Homo sapiens: one gene and its partners. The protein of the gene in region 1 interacts with the protein of each later gene in a pairwise test. Each region holds a gene or a part of one and is shown in the gene's direction. Other genes may lie near its edges. The genes, in order: TSPAN8, STX2, MEP1B and TIMM23.

Region 1 (6,947 bases):
TAAAACCCCTAAGTGAGAACTCCAACTTTCCAAAAATAAAAAAGGTTTTTCAAAATGAGACATGCTAAAAGCACCAGAATCTCTTCACTCAAATTGTTCAGAGTGTATGATCTCATGTCCTTACATACACACCCCTCAGTACAGTCATAAGGAAGAGAAATCTCAACATTATGTTTTTATTGCTGCTGTTAGCCTTTGAGAACATGAATTGATTATTAACAACGTCATGAAAAACAAATAGTATAGAGGGACAGTGATAATGGGAGAGTATAAAAGACAAGAGAAAAAAATAATCTTTTCTCTACCACACATGAATTGCTTTTTTACTGTCTATTCCATGGACAAATATATCGGGTAACGAGATGTTGGAAACAAAAAGGCAAAGAAGTTACCTTTTCACCATGGTGTAAGGCCTAGGAAGGCAGGGATTTTTATCTTGTTTCATAAATTACTATGTTTCCAGCACTTAGTCTCATTCCTGGAATATGGTAAGGATTCAATACATCAGTTGAATAAATTTTTGAATATTATCTTATGGAGGAGAAGATGATATCATGATGAAAATATGAACTATCTATGCTTAATTTCTGGTCCAAGTCCCAAACGTAGGCCTGGTTTGCCTGATGACTTAGAGAAAATGCCATATTTTCTGTGGGGTATTTGATGGTACTACTCATGCACTTTCCTCTGCCCTGAGCATAAGGAATCTCTCTCTCTCTTTCTTTCCCCTGCATGGGTTCCCATACTGCTATCAAAATCTAGTTCACTGATGACTGCCTCATGGAGACTTTTCACAATTAATCAAATTGGAATCATTATCCTGCCTTACTCTGTGCATTTGCTGCAATGAATAGTAATTGGCATGATGGCAACATTAGAAAAACTTTATCTAAATTTACTTAGACTTTCCCTCTGTTCTTTCCCTCGATTGTCATTTCTTCTTATAATATTTCACTCTCCATTTCTTTCCTTACTGGCCCGGTCTTTCACAGGGTCTAAGATTTATTACTGACAATCTCCAACCCCTGCAACCTCCCACCACTGTTAAAATATCTGTTATATGAAAATTTCTCAATATCTAAGACACGTTAAATGAGTAATGAGTAAATGACTCATTCTCATACTACAGAACTCAAGAGATTGTTGACGCCAGTAGACAGAATACTGATCTGATAATCCTGTGACCTTGTTTCTAGAAGGAGATCTAACCAGTTTTGTGAACTTGGGCTACTCAATCTGCCTATGCTGCTCTTTTCTCAGGTGTAAGAGTGAGAGTTTGTCTAGAACAGTGCTTCTGTAAGTGCGTATGTGTGTTCTGTAACACCAGTCCTGAATATGTCATTCAAAAATATGTTCTGAGATTATATTCATTTCAGAATTGCTATATATCACCTCCTTGAATATTAGAAAGTTGAAGGCTCTGACAAGTCCTGAAATTAATAAACTGTTTTTCTTGACCTAATAGATTTTTTAAAGGCAGAGGTAGCATATTGGTAGTTCCCTAGAGAACCTAATGAGGAAATCACTAGTTGAACTTTCTGAGGAGCTTGGCTGCCATTGCAAATCTCTGTAGCTCTAATGCCAGCTACTGTAGGTACAGAGGTGAATAGGGTAAGATTTCTGCTTTTCAGGCATATAGAATCAAATGTGGGGGAGAGACACAAATAAATGTGATATAGTGGCAATTGTAGATTTAAGGTCTGTTCAAATAATAATGGACTTGAGGACTGAGAAGCAAGTAAATCTGCCCAGAGTGGGGGCAGAGGATGAGGAAGGGAAGGCTCCACAGGGATGTTGCAATAGAGAAGGTGGGAAAGGATATTCCAGGCAGAAGGAACAAGGCATAAAATCCAAAGGTGTGTTCTAGGCCTGGGAAATAATTCTGTGGTTATGGAGCCTAGAAGTGGAGGCTGCCTAGGAAGAAAGGGGAGGGACAAAATTCTGGAAAGTGGGTGGAGGACTTGTTTGCTGTGTGCTGTAAATGCTACTTTAAGGAATCTGAACTTTATCTTGTAGGTAAAAGGAAAATATCCTTAGATTGGGTTTTCATCATTATCATTACCTAATCAATAAGTATTTCTCAAAAAGAATTTTAAAGTGCTAAGGCAGAGAGGAACTGGGAGAAACTGCCAGGGAAATTAATTCTCATTCTATTGACACAGCTCAAGTAAGAAATGATAAAGGACTGAATAATGAAATGCAAAAGGATGAGATGGAAGAAATAGTTTTGACAGTAATTTAGGAGCTACACAGACCAGTAAGAGTGATTGGATGGAAAGAAAGAGAAATACAAAATATCTGTACAAATTCAGCCTGGGAGAGTGTTGTGTGATTATAACATTAATAGGAATAGGAATTTCCAGGAGTGAACTGTTTCATATAGGTTTTGAATTAGACTAGGGGTTCTATTACACAGTCATTCTCCTGTACAAACACATCCATTGATTTTTGTGTTACAGAGTTCAAGAGTGATTCAACTAAAGACTACACAGTATTCTTTTTAAGGATGTTCAGCATCCACCAAAATATCTATTTCAAACTAAAATTTGGTAGTATTCAATACATTCTTTTCAACAAAGCAGCATTTAAATCTGTAATTTTTTTTTAATTTTAGCCTCTGATAAATAATCATTTCTGGGACTATGAATCAATTTTGGTTTTCATTCAATCTGAAATTATTCTTTCAGCCTTGGATTATTCTATATACAAAATATCTCAATAGAAGGTTGTGAAACTATCCATTTTCTAGTAGGAAAGAGAACACAAACAATTTTAGTGATGATTTATATATTAAGCCATTATTTTTGGAATTAATCCTAAATTTGGCCTTTAACGCTATATATTATTGTTGATAATGCATTAAAATATATTGTATTTGTAGTCAGGGAGTAGAATTGTTTCAAAAACATTGTATGCCAGTGAAAATTAGAAATAATATTTTTCTTTTGTAAGGAGTTCATGCTTGCTTATCGTGTAAAACTTAGCAAAGATTCTAAAGAATAATTTTCTCAACAACCTTTTAAAGTAGAGGGTTCTTTTATTTAGGGGGAGAAGAACTCCCTTTGAGAGGCAGGATGTGGAAACTAACATGACCCAGGCTGTTTACACAAAGCAGTCCACACCTCCCTGATGATGTCGGAGCATTTTGCCTTTACCTGAGACAGCTGCCTTCTATTAGCACTAGAAACAAATAGTAAAATCTATGGTCACTGATCCATGACCACCTTCCCATTTTGAATTTTTTTGTCCGGGAGGACCTGGAATCCAGAAACTGAGTTGGTGGAGAACAGCTGTTGCTAGATACAATTTATCAGAGGAAGGAAATTACAGTGTCCACCTTAAAAACAAACCAAGCTATCAGAATGACTACGCATTATAAAATGAAAACAATGTTGCAGTCAGTGCCACTTTATGATTTCTTTCCCTTTGTATCATAAAGAAATAAAGATAAAAAGCAAATGGTCTTATCATGATAGGCAAGGCTGCCTCTCCCTCTGCAATTTCTGTGGTGTATTTACGGCAGCTCTGGAATTCTTTTGAAATAAATTTAGATGTTTTGGAGGGCAGATACATGTAATGGTTATTTTACTATTCTAGGTTTAATGATAACAGGTTGCTATGTCTAAGCTTTGATATTTTGCAGATTTCTAAATGCATTTTATTGCATTTAGAAGGAATTTTGTAGTATTGAGAAAATGCAATGCAAAAATGAGTAGAGATACAATGTCCATTTAACTCAGAACAAAACAACCTTATTTCCCCATAGTTGAAATGGAGGGCGGGGAAGTCAGGCAGTGGTTTCTGAAAGCCAAGAACTTAGTAGCACTGTGCCATTCTCTTGCCTGATCCAGTGCCATTCCCTTCACTTGATATCTGTTTACTTTAGAGGAGGCAGTTTTTGAGAAAGGATCATAAATATCCTGGCCCAGTGCCCCAGGAGCTATGACAAGCAAAGGAACATACTTGCCTGGAGATAGCCTTTGCGATATTTAAATGTGTGAGTTAATAGCCTTTGAGATATTTAAATGTGTGGGTTAATAGCCTTTGCGATATTTAAATGTGTGGGTTAATTTTTTTATCCAGTTTAATAACTTTTTATTCCTCCCTCTACTTCTTTGCTTTCTCTTTCTGCTCTGAAGCCGTGGATACAGAAATCTCTGCAGGCAAGTTGCTCCAGAGCATATTGCAGGACAAGCCTGTAACGAATAGTTAAATTCACGGCATCTGGATTCCTAATCCTTTTCCGAAATGGCAGGTGTGAGTGCCTGTATAAAATATTCTATGTTTACCTTCAACTTCTTGTTCTGGGTAAGTGTTTTCCTTTTAATTATCAATTTTATGCAAGAAAGGGGATCTTGATATAAATATCATAAACAAGAACAGACTGTACACTAGAGAAATAAGAGAAGGGGGAAAATGTATTTTCCATGTACTTGTTTGGATTTGTTTGTTCTTTCTTTGGTTATTTCAGTAATTGAAAATGAGCCAAGGACTCAAAAAAGTGCACTTCAGAATGTGAGGATAAACATTTCATAAATGTTTTCATATTGCTGCAAAAAAAAATCACAGAGGAACACAAATGCCCCTTAATTAAAGGACAATTTTCCTTAGTTGTATATCAAGCAGGCCTCCCTAATTTAAGGACTCTGTGGTAAAAACATGGTCTGATTCCATCCGGAGCCCGGGTCCTGATTCCCGCCCTTCACTTCTGGGTTTGAACAGGTGAATCGCAGGGTGTGGGACAATAAAGATCATTTTCAGAGCCTCAAAGACAAAAAAAATGGGTCATGAAAAACTTGAGGGGGAAATGATAAAATTCCTAAATCATAAGAAAATCAAACTAAGACCGTGGATATATATATGTATTGGCATTTTAAAGTCAGTATTTTGATGTGTCATCACCCTACCTTTTAATTGACAGGATTTGTATTTTAGCAATTTGTTATGTTTCTCTTGAAAGTCCATTGACATAGACATAACCAACAAATTGATAACTGATATCTATCAATAGATAATGGAAAAACAAGGTATGAAAAGAGCAGGCTGGGATGTTGGGACATTGACCTTATCATTTTTAGCATATATGGTACAATTAAAGATTGTTTAAATGTCAATCAGTGGAAATAGCACAAAGTATTTAAATGAAAAAAGTATTTTGTATACTGGATTAAAAGCTACCTTATCCACTCCAAGGATGAAAGAACTCTGGTTTTGTTTTTGTACCTGATCTTTAGTAAACAGACATCTCATACCTATGTGTTGCTATATTTCTGTTCTATTAAAATAATGATGAACTTAATTAAACTTAACTACATGAATACAGCTTTATTGTATAGACTGATTTTCCATTCAATGATCAGTAGTGCTAATGAGTACAAATGGATATATTGGTGACTTTTAAATAAGTAAGTAAATATTTAAAAAAGTAAAATAAAGAAGGCAAAAAAAATGGGCTGCTGTTTTTAGGTTAAAAAAATGGGCTGCTTTTGCAAATATTTAATGTAGCTCATGCTACATATATGCCAGTTTTTTAGTTAGTTCTGATACATTTCTTCCCTTGAGATACTTAAATTGATTAAACATTGGGAGCAGGTTATACAAAAAAAGAAAGACCTGTATTCTTTGGTTTTGTTTTGTTTCTAGTTTTTTTTTTGTTTGTTTTTTTTTTTTTTTTTTGGAGAACTTTGAATATTCACTAAAGAAGATAGGATAGGTAATCAACTCCATTGGCCAGCCCAGGTGGCCACAGAAAGATGGCCAATCTTTCTCCATTTTTACTGTATTCACTTCCCCCACCCCATATTATTTTGAAGCACATCTCAGATATATAATTTTGTCTGTAAGCATTTTAGTATATATCTCTGAAACATAATAATTCTTGAAAAAATGTAACCACAACCAGGCGCAGTGGCTCACGCCTGTAATCCCAGCACTTTGGGAGACCGAGATGGGTGGATCACAAGGTCAGGAGTTTGAGACCAGCCTGGCCAGCATGGTGAAACCCTGCCTCTACTAAAAATATGAAAAATTAGCCGGGCATGGTGGCACGCCCCTGTAGTCCCAGCTACTTGGGAGGCTGAGGCAGGAGAATTGCTTGAACCTGGCAGGGGGAGGTTGCAGTGAGCCGAGCTCGCACCACTGCACTCCAGCCTGGGCGACAGAGTGAGATTCCATCTCAGAAAAAAAAAAATGTTACCACAATATCATTATTACACTTTAAAAATTTAATAAGAATTTTTTAAATCAATTGTCAAATTGATTTGACAATTTTAATCAAACTGTCAAATTTGAGCCCATTCAGGGCTGAAATTTCCGATTACCTCATAAATGTTCCTGTTAGAATCAGGATCTAAATAAGGTCCACACTGTGTGGTTGGTTAATATATGTTTCATGTCTATTTTAATCTGTTGATTCTCCCTCAGTCAACATCTCTTTTTCTCCCTACTGAAATTTTATGCACTGGTGTGTGTTGTTTGTTTTATCACATTGCCCACAGTCTGGATTTTGCTGTTTGCATACCTGTGGTGCAGCCTGATACAATTCAAGGTCCTTTTTTTTTCACACGACAATCATAAGTGATTTTGTATTCTTTCATGAGGAGGCACTGGAGGTTTGATTGTGTCCCTCTTTTGTGACGTTCGTAGCCATTGATGGTCAAGTGCCAAAATCCATCATTAGTTCATTAAGTGGTTCAAAGTGATGATATTCTAGTTTCATCAACTTTTCTTTCTTTATTAGCTGGAACACTTTCTATAAGGAGAAACTTCTCATTTACTGTTTAATTACCTGGGTATCCCATTTTTAATATTTTTTAAGTGGCATAAAATACTTCTTTCTCACTCTTTACTTACCAGATTGCAAGTGATGAGTTAAGTTACTAATATTATCCAACAGTGATAAGTTAGTATTTCTTTAAGTATCCTTATGAAACAATAGATCAGCTCCA
Region 2 (7,028 bases), about 60 Mb from region 1:
GTGAGGCTTTGCTCAGGGCTCACTGCGTTCACATTTCACATGTGGGAAGAGAGGAGTGGGGGTCGATTCTGCACTCCTCCCGTGCCCAGATCCGCCTCTTACGTGGGCCAGTGTGAGCCTGAGGTGAGGGAGGAGCTATACATGCATTTCTCAGGGTGGGCCGAGGGTGACTTCTAGTCTTGTCTTTGTCCTGTACCTGTGAAGGTAAGCGGCTAATGTACATTGTCAGGGTGAGATTCTGCAGAACTCTGTTTTAGAGTTAGTTTTTGGTGGGGGGGATATGGATTCTGAAAGATTCTGGGACCTACGAGGAATTTCCTTGTGAGCACTTTGTGCAGGAGGCTGCTGGGGCGATGTGCGGCCTTCTGTCACTGCAGCCATCTGTTTGAGAAGAGGAGGGAGGGCAGTGTTTTGCATGACTCAGTTCCCAAGCTTAACTGTCCCTTTGGGATAGTGAGTGTGAGGTCCTGCGATTTTATTTTCCTTTCACAGTATTTATAGAAATCTCTTTATTGTGAAGAAAAATCTATTCGGTCCATCAACAGAGTTCTATTCCAAAGAGTAGGGAATTATCCAAATGATTTTAGTGTTTGTGGTAAGGCCGCCACGTTTTAGTGGTTTGTGGTACTGCCCAGAGGAAGACAGAGCCCTGAGGCCTCGAGGGCACGAGGCGATGAAGCACGCGGGCTCTGGGGTCCGCCTGCCTGGGTCCCCTCATGGGCACAAGGCGATGAAGCACGCAGGCTCTGGGGTCCGCCTGCCTGGGTCCCCTCATGGGCACAAGGCGATGAAGCACGCGGGCTCTGGGGTCCGCTTGCCTGGGTCCCCTCATGGGCACAAGGCGATGAAGCACGCGGGCTCTGGGGTCCACCTGCCTGGGTCCCAGTGCTGATCTGTGTTTATCAGAAAAGCCTGTGACCTTGGGCTAATGACCTCAAAGTCATGGTTTTCTTTAAGTAGGGTTGTGACCGGCATAGTAGGGGTCTTGTAAAAATTAGGTAAGATCATGCATGCAAAGTTCTTAGCACAGATGCTGCCATGGGGACTTTGCCATTGTCATTTTCCATTTGCAGGAGCAGAATAACATGTAGTTTGAGTTTCCAAAATGCATGTCTTGCATGTCACTTTCAGTAGAAGGCATGGCCCTCAGATACGAATGTAGTTTTCCTGTGTTGTTAGCATTCGGTGCTGTCTCGGAAGTTTGTGGAAGCCATGGCGGAGTACAATGAGGCACAGACTCTGTTTCGGGAGCGGAGCAAAGGCCGCATCCAGCGCCAGCTGGAGATAAGTGAGTAATGGAGACTCCGTCTTTGTTAAAATCATGTTTTTCTCCCTTAAGGTCTCACTTCAAATGACTTTAACTTCAGAAAAGGAAATCCATGTCTATTTTCACCAATAGTGTAAAACCCAAAGACCACTCGTAGCTTCCTATGCCGTGAGTCAGGCAAACCTGTTCTTCCTGTCTTCAGGAAGTCCTAAGCGGTGGGGTTTACCTTGCTCATTGCTGTTGCTTTTAGAGTTTCAGGGAGATTGGGAGAGTGCTCAGTCATTTCCTCTTTGAGTGTTTCTGTGTCCTCAGTCCCGCCCTGCCCTGGTTCGGGGGCATCTTCATGGCTCCTCACATCTCTCCTTGTCTGTGAGCAGAGGCAGCGGCCCTATTGCCCCAGACTCTTTTCAGGGGTGTCTATGGGGACAGTTGGCTGTGGCAGTGGAGATGGCGCCTTCTTCGGGGACAGACGGGTCTGTTTCAGGGATAAAGGTTGGTCAGGTTTGTAGACTCCCCATTGTGAAAGATTGGGGTTCCCAAGCTCGGGTCCTTCAGCTGTGACACAAACCCACTGTGAGGACGTCCCACTGCAGCTGCTCTGCCTCTCCCCATGAGACTGGGGGCCGTGGACAGCTGCTCATGAGCCTCAGGTTGCCTGCTGTGCTGTGAGTAGGAAATCCCTTTGTCCCTGACCTGGGGCCTTGGACCTTCTGCCGGCCCCCACGGAGCCCTGGCAGGCCAGCGTGTCAGCTCGCAGGTCAGATGAAGCCTCAGGCCCATCCCGGCTCCCAACGCCGCACATCCCCCTCAGAGAATGTTGTCATATGCCCGCCAGGCCGCTTGACCTTGTCCCACAGCTCAGCGAGGCTCCTCATGTTTTAGATACTCTTTTCCAGTGTGTTTGGTTTTGGTCAGTTTCTCTTGCTTGTCTGATCTGCCTTTAACCTCCTCTGGTGTATGTTTCATCGGAGACACTGGTTTCTGTTGCTAGTTCTGCTGGGTGTTTTACATGTCTGCTGTGTTGCTCCCCACTGTACAACTGGGACGCACTTGTAGTAACTTGAACCGTCTTTGTCTGCCAACTCCAGTGTCCTGTCTGCTCTGGTTGGTTGATTTCCTTCCTTTCTGTGGCTTGTGTTTTCCTGCTTCTTTGCGAGCCTGGTAAGTTTCGAGTGTGTGCCAGACATTGTGAACGTTACTTTGTTGGGTGCTGAGTATTTCTGTATTTTGAGTATTTTTGTAAATCTCCTTGGGCTTTGTTTTAGAATGTAGTTAAATCACATGAGCATGGTTTAGCCTTTGGGATCTTGCATTTAGAGGGAGCAGAGCAGCTTTATTTGAGGGCCTGTCATTCCTCACTCCTGAGGTAAGACCCTTCTGAGCACCTGCTCTGATGGCCGTGAACCTCATGGCACCCTCGTCTGCCTGGCAGCGTGTTCCCTCTGGCATGCTGGTCAGCACTCCAGTGAGCATGCGGGGTCTGTGCAGCTCGCTCTCTGCATCTCTCTCATCTCTCATACTCCATCTTGCAAATCCAGTTGCCTTGGTCTCCCCTGAGCTCTGTGCCTTTGCCTTAGGACTTCCCCTGGGCTCCACCTGGGCCCTTTCTGCTCTGTGGCTGACACGAGAGTTCCGTCTGAGGGCAGCAGCAGGCTCACCTGGCTTGTTTCCATCTGTTGGGAATCAGTGTGTGGCCTGATGCTCAGTGTCTTGGAAATCGTTTTGTAGATTTTGGTGGGTTTGTGGTTATTTCAAGTGGCAGGGAAAATACGGTCCCTGTTGCTCCATCCTGGCAGAAATGCTCAATCATGATGTCGACTAGACTGCTTTTCTATGAAAAAGTTTTTACAAACCACTTTGACTTCAGGGATCTGTTAGTACTTTTTAAAGTGAAAGTCATCATTACAGGCAGCCGGTTGCACTGTGAGGATTTATGCTCTGGGACTCTGTGGTGAGCGCTTTTCTAGCACAGAGTTCCCCAGCCTGGGCTTGAAGGCCCCGCACCATCTCTCCTGCAGGTCCATCCTGTCTTCACTCCCCATGTGAATCCGGTGGCGTGATCAGATCGCCTAAGTCTCTTCTCTCTTTCCCACATTATTCTATCTCAGCCCACAGAATTCATTTCCAGTTTCTTCTCTTGCAATCATACTCTATCGAATGCAGTACTGTTTGTGAAAGTGTCTTATAAGCAATGAAGTATCATATACGTGTTGGGAGTTTTTTTTAGTAATTCCTTTAAGTCTGTTAAATTCTAAACCCTCCATGTGGCTATTCCGAAGTGAGCAGGTCTATGCAAACTCACCCCCAAAGGCTGAGCGAGCTGAGACGCCAAAGAAAGAGGCTAACAAATCCAGTTTCTCGAAGGAAACATTGGCTAGGGACGTACGAACAGAAGCCCCCGAGAGACAGAGACGGTGGACCCCACAGCCGCCTGCCCTCAGAAAGTGTTCTTTATACAGCAGGCTTTCAGGGTAGAACGTGTGCAGCCGGCCCTGTCTTCTGACTTGCTTGACAACACTTGGGACCACTGGTCAGGCTGGATGAGCATCTTGATGAGAGGTTGCCTGTGCCGGAGGCATCGTCTTCAGACCTCATTGCAGAACAGCTTGGCATGCACGAGTCGAGCATCGGTCATCACGGTGGTTTTGCTTCAGGATGGCGTCACTCTGGCCACACAGCGGGCTGTCTTCATACAGTGGTCTTCTCCAAATCCTTGCACCTAAAACCATTTTGTCCCCTTTCTTTCTTCCTTCCGTCAGCCCTGTCATCAGGCAGGTTTCTTACCTTGTATCACAGGATATCTTTTCCTGTGCTGTATGCTTTGTTTCTTCAAATGGCAAGTGAGTTTCTTCTTGGACCAGGGCATGTTACATAGGTCCACAGTGCTTTCTCTGGAATGGTTGGGGCTGTATGTGTTTCAGAGTTCAGAATTTTTCAGATTTTAGGAAGATAGTACAATGTATAAGAGGTGTATTATGTAATCCCCAGGTGGGGTCTAGGACTGCACCCTGTAATCAGGCACATTCACACAGCTCTCCAGTGAAATGTGAGTATTCACAGTAAGGGGGAGGAGTTAAGATTATAAATAGCCATGACTCAGTTTAGGTCAGATTTTGCCGCTCATTGAATTTTGACATCGAGCTTAAGGAAAACCCAGTTTTCATAATGTTGTGGATTTCAGCATTCTGGATAAGGAATTACGAATGTATACTGCATTTCACATTCTGTAACCCCAGGCTGTTTCTTAGACTTAGCAGTTAGCCGGTGGGAAGACCTTTGTGAACGTGAGACATGAACTGTAACTTTTAGTTTGTTTTTTTTTTTTTTTTTTTTTTTGAGAGAGAGCCTCACGCTGTCACCCAGGCTGGAGTGCAGTGTTGTGATAACCACTTATTGTGGCCTTGAACTCCTGGATCCAAGGGATCCTCCCACCTCAGCCTCTCGAGTAGCTGGGACCACAGAAGCACACCACCATACCTGGCTAATTTTATTTTTTGTAGAGACGAGGTTTTCACTATGTTGCCCAAGCTGAAATTTCTAGTTTTGATGATTATATTTTACATTATTTAGAACAAGTTTCATGTTTTTAAAAAAGCAAAGCAAAACTCAGAGAATCTCCTTATTGAGCTATTTTGAATAGATTTTTAAGTTTTATTTTATTTTTTGTAGAGATAGGGTCTTGCTGTGTTGCCCAGGCTAGTCTCAAACTCCTAGCCTCAAGCAATCCTTCCACCTTGGTCTCCCAAAGCACTGGGATTATACATGTAAACCACCATGTGTGCTCTCAAATAGATTTTTAAATGATTGAGAATTACCTCCCAAAAAATAGTGTAAGTAAACAAATTTTGCAATTTACTAACTTTAAAACTTTTTTCATTAAATGACATCTCAACAACTTTATTGAGAAGTAAATCTCTTAATATGTGAATGATATTTGGAGCATACAATTAATTCAGTGGTTTTTGGTGTATTTCCACACACAATCAATTTAAAACACTTTTATCAACCCAAAAAGAAACTTCACACCCACCACCAGTCATTCCCCATTTCCTCTCCTAGCCCAAGACAACTGCATTCTACTTTTTACTCCTGTACATTTTCCCATTTTGGATGTTTCATATAAATGGAATTATACACTATGTGTTCTGTGACTGACTTCTTTCCTGTAACACAGTTTTTCCAAGGTTTCACCATGGGGTGGGCAGGGTGTGGTGGCTCACATGTATACTAATCCCAGCGTGTTGGTTGGGAAGCCAAGGTGGAAGGATCGCTTGAGGCCAGGAGTTCAAGACCAGCTTGACAACATAGCAAAACCCCATCTCTGTAAAAAAAAATAAAAATAAACCAGGCATGGGTGTGTGCCTATAATCACAGTCACTTGGGAGGCTGGAGCAGGAGGATTGCTTGAGCCTAGGAGGTCAAAGCGGCAGTGAGCTGAGATTGCACCACTACACTCCAGTCTGGGTGACAGAGTGAGACCGTATCTTTGTTAAAAAAATAAAAAGGGCTGGGTACGGTGGCTCACACCTGCAATCCGAGCACTTTGGGAGGCTGAGGTGGGCAGATCACTTGAGGTCAGGAGTTCGAGACCAGCCTGGCCAAAATGGTGAAACCCCACCTCTACTAAAAATACAAAAATTAGCCGGGCGTGGTGACGCACGCGTGTAGTCCCCACCACTCAGGGGTCAGAGGCATGAGAATTGCTTGAACCCGGGAGGAAGAGGTTGCAGTGAGCTGCGACGGTGCCCCTGCACTCCAGGCTGGGCGACAGAGTGAGACCCTGTCTCAAAAAACAAAGCGACAAAAACCAAAAGCGTCCTTTGTTTTTGTGGCTGAGTCGTATGTCAGTGTGCAGCTAGACCGCAGTTAGCTCCTTCAGGCATCGGGGGACGGACGTTTGCGTTGTTTCCACTTTTTGGCAATTATGAATAATGCTGCTTATTAGATGACATTTGAATTATGACATTTATTCATTTACTTTTGTCTTCTGTGGCACAAACTATGAAAAATAGTAATTAACAATTAGGTTTCCAAAACCTGTGTACATGTTTCTTCGAAGTCATTACACATTTAACTCAAAAGGAAAGCATTAACTTCCAAACATGGAAAGTGTTCAGGCATCTGACTCTCATTACGTGGACTTTATTGATCCTCATTTAATACATGCTACATTCAGCTCAACCCCCTTTTACATGAGGCGGAGTTAAACTCTTAGGGAAACCAGTGTGCCGAGACATTGTTTACCGATTTCCTTTCTGCAGTTGTTTCTCACTAATATTAAAATGAAATTTTATTGTTTATAACATTTACAAAGTTTCTCGGAGTATTTTTATTTCTTCTTGCTCCTCAATCTTAGGTTCACTTCTCATTGTCAATATCTGCTTAAGAAAAGGTTAAAAAAATTACTGAAAAATGCTAACAACTATGATTGTAGTTGCTAACTTATGGTTGCAAATGGCTTTGTTTTTAAATTGTGCTGCATTCTGAGTGGGGCTGTGGTTGCGGGTCTTTCAGCTGGGAGAACCACCACAGACGACGAGCTAGAAGAGATGCTGGAGAGCGGGAAGCCATCCATCTTCACTTCCGACGTGAGTGGGGGTGCGGCCCTGTGGCTCCATGTCCTCTTCTGTAGACAGAGCTTTTTAAAAACCCTTTAACTTCCAAACCCATCATAAGTTTATTAATATTATCTTTTATTTTTGTTTTTCCAAGATTATATCAGATTCACAAATTACTAGACAAGCTCTCAATGAAATCGAGT
Region 3 (7,028 bases), on another chromosome or scaffold:
GGCTGCAATAGAACCTTAGATATGTTCAGTGTGACTGCTGGTATCACAGTTCTAAGCTTGAATATTATATTGTAAGATGGGAATAATGAAACTGTTGTTAGTTGTAGCAAAAATTGCTTGAGTTTATTATATTCTCCATTTCTAAGTGAGCAGTATTTGGAGTAAGATAAGCTGAATTTTGTGAACATCAAGTAAAGATTTTTTATTTATCCTTTAGGCAGAGAGCACAATTTTAACACCTATAGTGACGATATATCAGATTCCCTGAATGTTCCCTATGATTACACTTCAGTAATGCACTACAGTAAAACTGCATTCCAAAATGGAACAGAGCCGACAATTGTCACAAGAATCTCAGACTTTGAGGATGTGATCGGCCAACGAATGGATTTCAGTGACTCTGATCTCCTAAAGTTGAATCAACTGTATAACTGCTGTATGTGACAGGTTCTTTGAAATGACTTATATTTTCCGCTGTTATGTAGGAAAAAATGATGGTCTGTGCCATTTTGTCAAGCATTGGTGGGGTTTCTGCGATTATAGAGATTTGATATTCAGGAAATAAACAGAATAGCACTCAGATCTCAATCTACAACTTGGAAGCAGCATTTTTCTTTTCACCACGTCTGGTGTTGAGATCTAAAAACAAATTGGGTCCTGTAGGAATATGCCTCAGGCAAGTTTTTAAAGCTGTTACTAATTCAAACCTCGGTCAGATTGATACTCACACTTCCTTTTAGCCAAAATGATATGTCTAGTTGTAATATGAATGGGATCAAATAATCTGGATTGTGGCTTAATGATTCGAATAACTAGGGGAGTATAGACTCAGGTTTCTACAAATTAGAAAATTTTTTTTAAAAAAGACTTCAGGCAGGGAGCTTATTCAGATCTACAGAATTCATTACCTTCTTTGTAGGGGTTCTGCAAATAAAGAGGGATCTTTAAGCCACCATCATCCAGAATCAGCTAGGTGTTCCCTGTAATACCAACCTGGCATTTCTAATACTGTGATAAGTTCAGTTTTTGTTACTTAGATTATCATGTTGTATGAGTGTCAATAATTGTTTTTTGCTTTTTGTAGCCTCTTCCTTGAGTTTTATGGACTCGTGCAGTTTTGAACTGGAAAATGTGTGTGGCATGATCCAAAGTTCAGGAGATAATGCTGACTGGCAACGGGTTTCACAGGTTCCCAGGGGGCCAGAGAGTGATCACTCCAACATGGGCCAGTGCCAAGGTAACAGGAGTGAGATATTCCTAGACTGTATACTCAGTGGCTACAGCCACATACTTCTCTATGAAAGAATGGGATTTTATCTCTAATTTCTATCAGAATTATTAATGATTATTCATTAGGTTACTACTGAGAAGTAGGCCTTGCACCTGATAAAGACATTGTTAATTTCTTTGCTTTTCCTTCCTGAGTTTATTTTTCTTTCTACAAGTCAGAGCTGGGCTCTGTGATGCCTCTACCAGTGCGTTCCCATAGGAGAGTGTACCAGACTGGGCCTCCTGCAAGGCCTCTTATCTCAGGGGCAGTACTATTGTTTCCTAGAAGTTTGCAGAATACAAGAGACTCTTTCCAATGGACAGCACTAGGCTGCGAATTATTGTTTCAGAACTGTAGCTGGATGTGATTATATGCTCCTGTTACAAAAATATCTAAAAAGCAGAGTTTATTTAATTTTCTTCAGATGCGTATCCTTTTCCATTTTCATTTTGTTTTGCCTTAAGTAGTTATTTGGCTACAAGGACCAAATTTTTACGTATTTGCTTATTCTGGCATCAAATATGTAAAACTAGACTTCAGAACTTAGGGCCAGTGCTTAATAGCTCAGATGATCTAGGCAGGAATTGGAGGCCTCTAATGGCAAAAAGGTGCTTTTCCTTTTATTTTTCTTTTTAAATGCATATTTGGATAGTGGATAGTGGTCCTACTCAGACCAGAGGAAAGTAGATAGGGAGGGAGGGGGAAAAGAAGAAGAATCCAGACCAGGTAGCTCTCACTTTTTTCTGTTTTTGAAAACTAATTTCTGTGGTAAGGGAAAGGTTCCCTAATGTTGTCTCTTTCATAAATCGCCTGCTCCTAGAACCATATTTAAATGCCCAACACAATTCCCTGCATATAGTGGAAACTAAGCGAATACTTGAAATAAGGTAAAGAAAATTGGGCCGGGTGCAGTGGCTCATGCCTGTAATCCCCGGCCTTTGGGAGGCCAAGGTGGGCGGATTACCTGAGGTTGGGAGTTTGAGACCAGCTGGGCCAACATGGTGAAACCCTGTCTCTACTAAAAATGCAAAAATTAGCTGGGTGTGGTGGTGCATGTCTGTAGTCCCAGCTAGTTGGGTGACTGAGGCAGGAGAATCACTTGAACCCGGGGGGCAGAGGTTGTAGTGAGCTGAGATCATACCATTGCGTATCAGCCTGGACAACAGAGTAAGACGTTGTCTCAAAAAAAAAAAAAAAATGAAAGAAAATATATATACACTCAAACCAGAATTACTAGCTGTGCCTTCTTTAGAGATGGCTTAGAAGGTTAAGTATTGCAGATAATGAAAGCAGATAAGTGGGAGGTGCCTCTGAAATTATCAGGTTCAGTTATTCTCAATTTTTTCATTACAAGTATCATTTTAAAAATATTAAAATGTGAATCTCCCCAGATGGTTGCTGTAGTTAACAATATCTTCTGAAAGTTGAATTTCTTTCTTCCTTTTCTTTTTTTCTTCCTTCTTTTTTTGTGACAGTTTGAAGCCAAAGAAGTTAGAAAGTGTTTAAAAAAAAAAGGGGGGCGGGCAGGTCAGCCAAGGCCCTGGTTTCCTGGCTGGACTCTCACCTCTGTCCGCAGTGTGTGTTCACCTTTCCAGAAAGACCTAGAAGTTCACGTTGAATTACCCTTGGGAGACACAGATGCTACAACTCTCTACCCACCCAAGTTTCAAACCCTCGTTTTGACTTAATTTCCATTTTCCTTTTTCATATTCTCAGCGGGGGAACAACCCTCTGTAGCATCTTTGTCCAATGGTAGCTCTTTCCACTTGGAGCTGGACCAGGGTTTTGGACACTTGAAAGGTGTCCCATGTAGAATCTACCTTTTAGCCCTGCTGTTTGGGCTTGACCTGCAGCCTTACAGTGGATTTTTAAAAAGTTAGCATTTGATACTTAAACTTGCTTTATCTTTATAGCTCATAACAAATGAAGATAAGCAAGGATTAGTGCCCACGGAAAACTACTATTGTAAGTAAACGTTTTATAAATAATAGAGAGGTTTGAGTTTTATACTGTTATGTCAATCTGCTAGCTTTTGCAAGTGCCAGATATGTAGCTTAGGCTTCTGTCATTTCTCCCTGGCGATTTATATATGGATGTTACTTATGCCTCGCGTAAAGAATCTAGCACCACCATTAACAAACACACATTCCTATACCCAGTATCTGTTTTTCTCTCAATTCTGCTTTTCTTTAACAGGTTCTGGTTTCTTCATGCATTTCGATAGCAGCTCTGTAAATGTGGGGGCCACAGCAGTGCTGGAAAGTAGAACGCTGTACCCTAAAAGAGGATTTCAGTGCCTGCAATTTTACTTATATAACAGTGGCAGTGAAAGTGATCAACTGAACATCTATATCAGGGAGTATTCTGCAGACAATGTGGATGGCAATTTAACCCTTGTGGAAGAAATAAAAGGTACAATGTCAACATCCTTATTGTCTGGATTTAAAATGAGGCAATCTTAGGTCTTTTCTTTAGTTAATGCAACAATTTACAATAGGGCAGGGGCTACTGAGTCACTATACTTCAACTAAGAACTAGATTCTTGTTTTAAGCTGTGGAAAGGAAGCTAGAATGAAGATTCTTTCTGAGTGCTCTGTTATGTAACACTCACTTAAGAAACTGTAGATCAGTCTCTGGCACTATGGAGGTCAGTTCTTGGCAAATAATAAAAATACAAGGCTGGGCGCAGTGGCTCACACCTGTAATCCCAGCACTTTGGGAGGCCGAGGCGGTCGGATCACCTGAGGTCACGAGTTTGAGACCAGACTGGTCAACATATAGTGAAACCTTGTCTCTACTGAAAAAATACATAAATTAGCTGGGAGTGGTGGCACACGCCTATAGTCCCAGCTACTTGGGAAGCTGAGGCAGGAGAATTGCTTGAACCCGGGAGGCGGGGGTGGCAGTTGAGCCGAGATCATGCCACTGCACTCCAGCCTGCGCGACAGAGCAAGACTCCATCTCTGAAAAAATAAATAAAATAAAATAAAATAAAAATAAAATACATAAAAATACAATGTGAACTAGCTTAGGCAAAATAGGATGGGCTCCTGGCTAAATGTTAGTTACAGCCTGTGGGACAGATGAGGGAGACACTGGCTTGAGGGGGAATTATTAATAGATCTGTCTCTGAACATTGCTGGGGACCTCTTGTTTTATCTCAGAATGGCTGTCTTTATAAGACTGGTACTTCGGTTGTTTCACTTCCCAGCTTACATTTGACCAAATTTGCTATCAGTCTGGAAAAAGGACTCTTCCTCTAATATAAAGCTTAAAAAATAAATCCCAGTGAAGAACTGGGATACTTATGTCTTAAGTTAAACACAGCTTCTGGAGCAATTCCTGAGTGGGAAATGGGTACCCACCCTTCATACCAATAATGTGTCAGAGAGGAGAGCCATGTTGACCACCTATGCAAGTAGATGGTTAAGGGGGTGACTGAGAAAGGGAGGGGCTGTGGGCTGGCAAATATATTACTGTCTATTCCACCTAATCATCTCATGACTTGAATGAATTGAGTAATTCAATTTGTTCCACAATTGGATCCATATTATGCAATATAGTATGCCATTTTCCTCCTGTTTTCAACAATGAGAAACAATCTGAAATACAGGCGATATTTTTCTTTGTGAACACCTGTAAGCAGTAAGGTTCTTAATCTCACTAAGCATATACACACATTATACATATATATTATTTATGTAACAATGTAAAATATATAAAGAATAATTATATATAATATATTATATATTACATATATAAAAGCCTTATATATAAGCCATATATGTTACTATAAATATTATATTTTATGTATTAATATCTAAATTAATACAAATATTGATATAATGTATCTGTAATATATATAATTGTCCAGGACTGGAAGGGGGGTCCTTCCTATTAGCAATCTGTGGGTTCGTCATTGATACACAATAACACAAAAAGGCACTTAAGAAGCTTGCTTATTTTCTGTCATTTGGGTATGTCTAGCTTATTTTCAAGTAACTGTGTTTCACATTAAGTGCCAACATATTTTTGTTTTAAGACTTTGTGTTAACCACTAGTTTGACATGAATTCCTCAGCTGTTGTTCATCTGGGGGCCTCTGCAGATTATTTAGTATACTGCTTCTTATTTGAGTATGTGATATAAGAAAATCAGACAGAATGGCATATTATGTGCTGCTAGCGAGGGGTATGGGCTAATAGTTGGGGAGGAAGTACAGGTTGGAAAGAAAGGAGGTGGTACCAAATATCAGATAAATACTTACAATGCTGAGTTACTGGGAAGTGATCTAAAGAGTAGATTGCAGGATGTAGGCTTTCTAGGGTTTGGTGGATTTTGTTTAATATTACCAAAAAGTTGATTGAAGACTTTGTATGTGAGGGAAGTATTCCAATCAAACTATAAATATATTAAAGAAGGCTTTGCCTGAGTATCACAGGAATCTTGAGTAGAAGTGTTACAAGTGTTGGGTTTGCTGGCCCTTTAATGGAGAATGGCAGGTAACTCATAGGTAGGGCATGAAGTACTCATGAGCTAGATGTTGTTATTTACTCACCGATCTCTAGGAAAGGGTGATCTATTTGAGAAACAGCTAGACAAACGTTCAGCTATTCCAGAGAACAGTGTGACCCCACAGAAGCACCTTGAAGTAAATAATTCTAGGCTGGAGCTTTGGCAAAACCATACTTCTGACCTGTAGAAATAAATCGGTTTTGGATGACCCTTTGTCTAAGAAGGCTAGAAATCTAATGTTGACATGTACATGATTTGAACTTCTTTGTCTTTGAAATAATAATGACTCTTTTGCAGAAATACCCACTGGGAGCTGGCAACTTTATCATGTAACATTGAAAGTGACCAAGAAGTTTAGAGTGGTGTTTGAAGGACGCAAAGGCTCTGGTGCATCACTGGGTGGTCTGTCTATTGATGACATCAATCTTTCGGAAACACGGTGCCCTCATCATATCTGGCATATAAGGAATTTCACACAGTTCATTGGCAGCCCAAATGGAACTCTGTATAGCCCTCCATTTTACTCTTCTAAAGGTTATGCCTTTCAGATTTACTTAAATCTAGCCCATGTGACTAATGCAGGGATATATTTCCACTTGATCTCTGGAGCCAATGATGATCAATTACAGTGGCCATGTCCTTGGCAACAAGCCACAATGACACTTTTGGATCAAAATCCTGACATTCGACAGCGTATGTCCAATCAGCGGAGTATAACTACAGACCCATTTATGACCACCGGTTCGTAACTCATTTTCTTTATTGCTAATAAACAATCATTGCTCTAGGAGGGACTGATAATTTTGGGAATGAGGGATTGCACAGTTAGTTACCTAGGGAATTTTGAGCCCCAAATCTTAAGAACAGATATTTAGGGGAAAGGTTTCAAGAATTGTGGACTGAGTCTGTCAGACAGGAGCTCATCACAAATGTCAGCAAGGACTCCAACAAATGCTGACTGTATTCCTAAGAACTGATGGCCCTTCTCAAATTTCCACTTCTGTGCAAGAAGTGTTGGTTTTAGAGTCTGACATGCCTGAGTTCAAGTCCAAAGTTTGCTTCTCATTAGTTATGTAATCTTGAGCAAATAATCTCTTAGGGCCCCAGTGTCCTCAGCTGTAAAGCCAGGGCTGTAGTAATCATTCCACAGATTTGCTATGAGAATTAGTACAGGTCAAGTGTGGAAGCTGTGGAAAGGCCTGCGGTGGAGAGGCCCTCAGATGTTGGGTTCTTCTAACTCATGC
Region 4 (7,028 bases), on another chromosome or scaffold:
GTCTTGAGGGACACTCAGCTTGGTTTTCATTATTATCCTTTTAGGATACAGATGAGTTTATTTTACCTACCGGAGCTAATAAAACCCGGGGCAGATTTGAGCTGGCCTTCTTTACGATTGGAGGATGTTGCATGACAGGTGAGTGTTACATACTTTTTTCTCAAGAGTGCTCAGTTCAAGTAGTTGAGGGTGCGTAAAATCAAAAGCAATTAGAATGTTGGTTTCAGGGTTTTTTTTTTAATATTTACATTTGTCTTTTTCTATTAAATAAAAATGAAAAAGAATCAGAAGTGTAGTTATGCAGATTTGAGTTTGTTTTTTTAATATAAAGCTGTCTTTATCTGGGTGAATTGTTATGATTTACCAGGGGCTGCGTTTGGTGCAATGAATGGTCTTCGGCTAGGATTGAAGGAAACCCAGAACATGGCCTGGTCCAAACCAAGAAATGTACAGTAAGTCTCTTGTAACCATCTGATGTAGTGATACTTGAATATTAAGCTCTGTTGTATTGGTTTGATGAGTACAACCTTGAGATTACAGATGGTTAGCATAGTTATGTGCTTTTTTGTCTTTGTTTTTTAATCTTAATCAAAATAAAAGCAACTAAGGAATCAGATTACTGACTCTAAGCTTTTAAAAAGGAGTGATTTTTTTAATCAGTGTCCCTCAGTCAGCTAGTGCTATGCCAGCCTGACTTCTCAGCTGCACCTGTTACATTCTCCAACCCTATGTGACTTGCTTTTCAAATTGTTGAGTTGCTAATGGGAATTTTGGATTGTTTGGGGGCATGCAGATCCATAGGAAATGGTAATGAAGAATAAGCAGCTCATGAGAGTGATGGCTCAAGCTGCCATCATTTAACTTGAAGTTCTTACTGTCTTGACTTTATGTTTCCGAAATGATGAGCCAGATACATTTTAAATAAAATTTTTAGAATTAGAGTTAATTCCAAAAGGATAAGACACAGTTTTCTGTTAGAACTTGAAGTTACAGAGAAGGGAAAGTACAGTTAAAAGGATCGGAAAGTATGTTTTCACCCAACTTAAGAAGTAAACATGGCCAGTCCCTCTTGATATTCCTTAAACAATATGTTTAGTTTTGCCCATTTTTATGCTTCATGTAAGTGGAATCATGAGTATGTATTCTTCGATGGCTACTGTTTTGTTTTAGGACACTTTAAACTCCATCTTCCTTTCATATTGTTCAGCCAGCAGATGGCACCAGATGTGCTAGAATTAGACCATGGGAAACTGGAAGGCCTGTTAAATTGTGTGGTTTTTTGAGAGACAGGGCCTTGCTGTGTTGCCTGAGCTGGAGTGCAATGGCGCCATCACAGCTCACTGTAGCCTTGACCTCCTGGGCTCAAGTGATCCTCCCACCTCAGCCTCCCGAGTAGCTGGGACTACAGGCACATGCCACCATGCCCAGTTAATTTTTTAATTTTTTGTAGAGACGGGGTCTCACTGTATTGCTCAGGCTGTTCTCAAACTCCTGAGCTCAGGTGATCCTCTTGCCTCAGCCTTCCAAACTGCTGGGATTACAGATGTGAGCCACTGCGCCTAGCCCTGTTAAGTTTTTTATATTCCTGTTACTGTGTGGATCTCTGTCCATGCTTTACCAGCCTAGATCCTTCAATATTTTTATTACTTGTCCCTCGCTTCAATAATATTTTTAAGTTTTTGTATTATGGGGAATTTTGAATATATAAAAGTAGACAAAATACATAGCATAGTGAACACATGAACCATAACGCATCCTCAACAACCATCAACCATGGCCAGTTCTATCCCATTTCCTTCTCCTCTCCCATCTTATTTTGAGACAAAAACCCCAATATCATATTAAATACAAATTTGGAAGTAGATCTCCTAGAAAAGACAACTTGCTTCCTTTCTTAAAACAAGTTATTAAAATGCTTGTTAAAAATGAAAAAATGATGGCTGAACTTAAAATATGTTAGTAAATATGTAACATAATTAGAAACAATATACTTCTGTTTGTAAACATTACTGATTTTTTAAAACAATCTTTTAGAAAATACAAATTTTTGTTTCTGTAGAACATTAATTGAGTCGTTTAATAATTAAACTGAATGAGTTCCTTCACTCTTTGTTACTGTATTTCCATAATTTCCAGCAGTAGTCAGCTGTCTGGACAGAACCATTCCTGGGATCATGTTACACTGCTGGGAGAAGAATGTCTTCTCTTCATCCAGTTGCGTCCATCACTGTTCTGGTGGTGTCTGGCACTGGTGCAAGGCAGAACTGTGCTTCCTTGAGAGTGTGCTGAGCATTCACCTTGGCTGCTTGGTTCTAGTCTAGGAGCAGACACAGGGTGCTTTCCCCATGTATTCTAGTTAGATGGCTGATTCCTTCTCTTTAATTCTACTTTATATTCTGTACTTTGATATTCTTTACTTTATATTCTGTACTTTGATATTCTTTACTTTGATTATCTTTAACATTCTAAGCATATGTTCCCCTCCCAAAAAGAACCTTTTAGAAGCTAGCTCGCCATAGTTAACAGTGGCATTTTTTACATAGATTAGTTTCTGTAAACCTCTGTAAGATACATTCCAGGCTGTCATTCAAAGCCTTATATATATTTAATGTGTATTCATTATATTATACATTTAATAATAAGAGTTTTCCTTATTATTATTATTAAGGACTTATATAAAAGTCCTTAAGACTTTTGCCTAAAGTTTTGAAAGTTTTAACCTAATTTTCACTTATGTAGAGTAAAAACCATCCTTATTGAAATCGGAGATATTAAGATGTATTTTAGAATTTAAAAAACTTTGCGCCCTGGGTCTAGACATGTTAAATAGCCATTATTGTTTTTAAAGGTTACTAGAGAAATAATGATTCTAAATACAGATTCTTTCTCTTTCTGCCCTGATAGGATTTTGAATATGGTGACTAGGCAAGGGGCACTTTGGGCTAATACTCTAGGTTCTCTGGGTAAGTAGAGATCTCATTTGATAATAAATTGTTAAAGAAAGAATGCACAAATATCATGAACAATTTGATCAACCCATATTCTGGTCCTAGGATATGAGACAATTATGTTTAAACCCATTCCAATGCATAATGTAGATACTACTTAGGGAAAGACCATGAACTAACTTATGAAATAATCTCAGGTGCTAATACCGTTCTGAATACCATTGCTGAATTTTTAAAATCTTTTGGACACTGCACACTCTCCTTTCCAAGCACAACACCCAATAAAATCATGTTTAAATGAAATCCAGGTAATTTAGGTCCAAAGTAAAGAGCTTTGTATGTTAGGCAAGGTTCAAGGTCCTGTAGTGATACATGATAAATTAATCCAGCCCTCTTGCTATGTTTTCTTAATAGCCGGTTCATTAGTCTGTTTACCTGAGTAGATTTCAGGCACCTAATTGCCACAATTGGAATAGGTTCCTTGTAGATAATGAAAACGTTTGCAGTTCTAGGCAAAAGGTAACTTAGTAGTGCTTAGTCAGAGCCTTATGCTTTCATACCATATTGTTTATGAATGATTGATCACTTACAATAGATCTCTTATGGCTTATGTCCTGACATCCAAAATTTTCCTACTGTATGAACTTAGTTGAAAATCTCAATTTAAATTGTGGCAGATTAAGGAGGGGAAGACATAGAAAACTCATTGAAAACATAGAAAAAGCGTTTGTTATGGCAGGGTAAGGTCCTGCCTTGTCACAGAATTTGGAAGCAGTACATCTTCACACTGTAAAGCTAGTTTTCACACTTTGGATCCTAAGAGATGGCTGCTTTCATATGTTGCTGATGTCTGCATTCCTCCCACCCTCCTACAGAGTCACCCCGCTCTGTTTCTTTTAATTGCTTGTATACCTAGAGTAGTCAGCTGTCCTTGTCTGCGTAGGACTGTCAGAGAAAAGTCCAAGAAACTATGTTCCAATAATCACCCCCCGCCCACCCCGCCCCACAGTCCTGGACAAACTAGAATGGCTGGTCACCCTCTGTGTACCCATTGTGGTATGATCAAGAAGGGTGTTCTGCTCGTGATCAGTTTCAGTTAAATAAGTTGAAGAGGAAGATGAGCTTTCATAGAAGTATAAAAATACTGCAGTAGAGGAGTTGTAAGGCTGAGCGCGGTGTATTGTTGCAAGGGGCAAGTGTAGCTATAATTTTGAGAAAGAGTTTAAAAGTTTAACATTCGTTCCAGATAGGAATCTGCAAGAGCATAGAAGGATGGCTTGGGGGAAGATACTTTAAAATGAAATGGTGCTAGTGTTATAATACGTGAGAATCAAACCTCACTTTTTTTTTAATCTATTTTTTCTTATACTAGAAATACGTGTGTGTGTGTGTGTGTGTATGTGTGTGTCTTTAATCTGAAGTATAGCAATTATGGGTAGCATATAAATGAAAATTTTAAATATTCTTCCTGAGACTTCCTAGCGGTACTTTCTAGAAATAGCTACTATTGATGTTTCTTCTGAATTCTTCCAGGCGTTTCTCTGCATAGCCAGTCAGTCGTGTACCATGTGCACATGTCCCTGATTTACTTATTAGTGAAAATGATTCTTCTGGTTTTTAAGTGACTGTATAGTATTCCATTATATGAAAAGTCCCTCTCTGGATCAATTCAGATGGTACAAATGCTCTTGATGGGCATTTTATTTGTTGCCAGGTGTTTGCTATTAGAAACTGTTCTAGTGATCATTCCATGTATATCTTTGGATAAATTTTTCTAAATATAATTGCCATACTGACTTTTGTGTTGAAAAAAAAAAAACAGTTTTTCCTCTGCTCTCACACTACAACAGTCAACATAGGATAGTTCTGTGACCAGTTATGTGGGAATATTTCCCCACATACCAAGTAATCTCTCTTGCAGTGGACACCAGTTGGGTGTCCACCTGTTTCACTTCTGCCTGGAGATAGCATTAGATCAGCAGGTTGAGCACTCTGTCCCACAAAACTGAGCCCCACTTTGGATACTTCTGATGCTGATAGCAAGCTCCAGGTTATTTTACCTGTGCTTCTGACCAACCAGCTTTGTCAGGGTTTCCCACAACCCACTCTTTGGGTTTGATTAATTTATTGGATTGGCTCACAGAACTCGAGGGAACACATACTTAACATTTGCGTATTTATTATAAAGATTTTTTTTTTTTTTTTTTTTTTTTTGAGACAGGGTCTTGCTCTGTCACCCATGCTAGAGTGCAGTGGAGCTCACTGCAACCTAGACTTCTGGGCTTAAGCAAGCCTCCCACCTCAGCCTTTCAAGGAGCTGGGACTACAGGCAACATGCACCACCATACCAACTAATTTTTTTTTAAATTTTTTTAGAGAAGGGGGTATCCCTATGTTGTTGCCCAAACTGGTCTCTGACTCCTGGGCTCATGTGATCTTCCCACCTCGGCCTCCCAAAGTGCTGGGATTACAGAAACTTTGTGAGCCACCACACCTGGCTGGATATTTTTAAAGGATACAAATAGCCCAGTCAAGGAATACATAAGGTGAGGCCTGGATGGGCCCTGAGTGCAGGAGCTTTCATTTCACTGGAGTTGGGGTGCACTAGCCTCCTGACACGTGGGTGAGTTCTTTCTCACTTTCCTGCAAGTCCCATGAGTTCAGCTGTCCAGAAAGTCCTCCGACCCCATCCACTTGGGCCTCATGTGGAAAATTGATTGGATAGGCATGACTGAAGCATGGACAACCTTATAGAACTGTGATTGGACAAAAAGGGCATGCTCTACTACTAATAGACTGGGCACAGAAACCCAGCAAGGCCTGCCTGCCCAGATTCTCCCTTGGCCTTTCTGTGCAGCATTTCTTCTTCCTGGGTATGGGGTACGATCTTTTCTGAAATGGGGGTCTTACAGCCTGCAATCAGACAAGGTAGGTCATAGAATTTCTTTATGGCCAGTTCCAAGACAGAAAGGTGTGGGGAAAGATTAGAGTCCTGCTGTGGGGAGAAAAGGGAGTAGGTGAAAGGAGGGCAGGAGAAGGTCAGAGAGAGAGATTCTGTTTCTGAGGCTGCTTCTGAGGCCTGAAGTGCCCCAGTAATACAACAAAAGACCTTCACCTTTGTCCCTCTGAAGCTGTTCCAAAGCTGATTCCAGAACCAAGGACAAATACCTTAACAAGTGATTGTTTTAGTCACTTAGGAAGGGCTATGGGAGTTATGAGCTAGGAACCATGGATGAAAACCAATATATGTATATCATAATATCACACTTTATCACTGTTTTGTCACTGAGCACTTCCATTTCCTCTTTAGCTTTGCTCTATAGTGCATTTGGTGTCATCATTGAGAAAACACGAGGTGCAGAAGATGACCTTAACACAGTAGCAGCTGGAACCATGACAGGCATGTTGTATAAATGTACAGGTGAGTACTGTTGAATGGGGAGCCATCTCTTAATACACTTGAAGTGCGCTTTTTAAAATTCATGGTTTTCAAGGAAATTACACTCTGTTGCAGTATAATCTAGTGTTCTAACTTTATGGTTATTTTGGTTTGGTTTGGTTTTTAATTGTGGTAAAATAAACATAAGATTTACCCATCTTAACCATTTTTAAGTATACAGTACATTAGTATTATAGTCACATGATTATATAACCAATCTCTGGAACTTTTTCATCTTGCAAAACTGATACTCTGTACCTATTAAGCCTCCCAATTTACCACTTCCTTAGCTCTTGATAATGTTACACTTTCTGTCTCTGAATTGGCTGCTTTAGGCACCTCATATAAGTAGAATCATACAATATTTGTCCTTTTTTGATTGGCTTATTTTACGTAGCATAATATCCTCAAGGTTCATCCATGTTGTTGCATGTGCCAGAATTCCCTTCCTTTTTAAAGCTAAATAATATTCATTCTGTGTATGTATACCACATTTTGCATGTGCGTTCTTTTATCAAGGAATATTTGGGTTGCTTCTACCTTTTGGCTATTGTGAATAATGCTGCTACGAATATGGATGTACAAATATCTCTTCAAGGTCCTTCTTTCTTTTTTTGGATATATGTGCAGAAGTGGAATTC

The links.
Region 2: the proteins of TSPAN8 (region 1) and STX2 interact in binary tests that used the Homo sapiens proteins (3 or more experiments, as listed by UniProt).
Region 3: the proteins of TSPAN8 (region 1) and MEP1B interact in binary tests that used the Homo sapiens proteins (3 or more experiments, as listed by UniProt).
Region 4: the proteins of TSPAN8 (region 1) and TIMM23 interact in binary tests that used the Homo sapiens proteins (3 or more experiments, as listed by UniProt).

What each region holds. Positions count from the first base shown.
Region 1 is NC_000012.12:71,154,980-71,161,926, reverse strand, and holds the start of TSPAN8 (tetraspanin-8), read left to right. Parts: upstream 1-3,927; 5' UTR 3,928-3,997; intron 3,998-4,117; exon of another isoform or gene 4,118-4,139; 5' UTR 4,140-4,248; coding exon 4,249-4,308; intron 4,309-6,947. UniProt on the Homo sapiens protein: Structural component of specialized membrane microdomains known as tetraspanin-enriched microdomains (TERMs), which act as platforms for receptor clustering and signaling.
Region 2 is NC_000012.12:130,801,242-130,808,269, reverse strand, and holds part of STX2 (syntaxin-2), read left to right. Parts: intron 1-1,179; coding exon 1,180-1,288; intron 1,289-3,726; coding exon of another isoform or gene 3,727-3,770; exon of another isoform or gene 3,771-4,177; coding exon of another isoform or gene 4,178-4,313; exon of another isoform or gene 4,314-4,617; intron 4,618-6,781; coding exon 6,782-6,855; intron 6,856-6,979; coding exon 6,980-7,028.
Region 3 is NC_000018.10:32,207,035-32,214,062, forward strand, and holds part of MEP1B (meprin A subunit beta isoform 1 precursor), read left to right. Parts: intron 1-217; coding exon 218-436; intron 437-1,084; coding exon 1,085-1,237; intron 1,238-3,466; coding exon 3,467-3,682; intron 3,683-6,081; coding exon 6,082-6,525; intron 6,526-7,028. UniProt on the Homo sapiens protein: Membrane metallopeptidase that sheds many membrane-bound proteins. Exhibits a strong preference for acidic amino acids at the P1' position. Known substrates include: FGF19, VGFA, IL1B, IL18, procollagen I and III, E-cadherin, KLK7, gastrin, ADAM10, tenascin-C.
Region 4 is NC_000010.11:45,982,479-45,989,506, forward strand, and holds part of TIMM23 (mitochondrial import inner membrane translocase subunit Tim23), read left to right. Parts: intron 1-44; coding exon 45-138; intron 139-367; coding exon 368-452; intron 453-2,129; exon of another isoform or gene 2,130-2,333; intron 2,334-2,904; coding exon 2,905-2,963; intron 2,964-6,258; coding exon 6,259-6,369; intron 6,370-7,028. UniProt on the Homo sapiens protein: Essential component of the TIM23 complex, a complex that mediates the translocation of transit peptide-containing proteins across the mitochondrial inner membrane.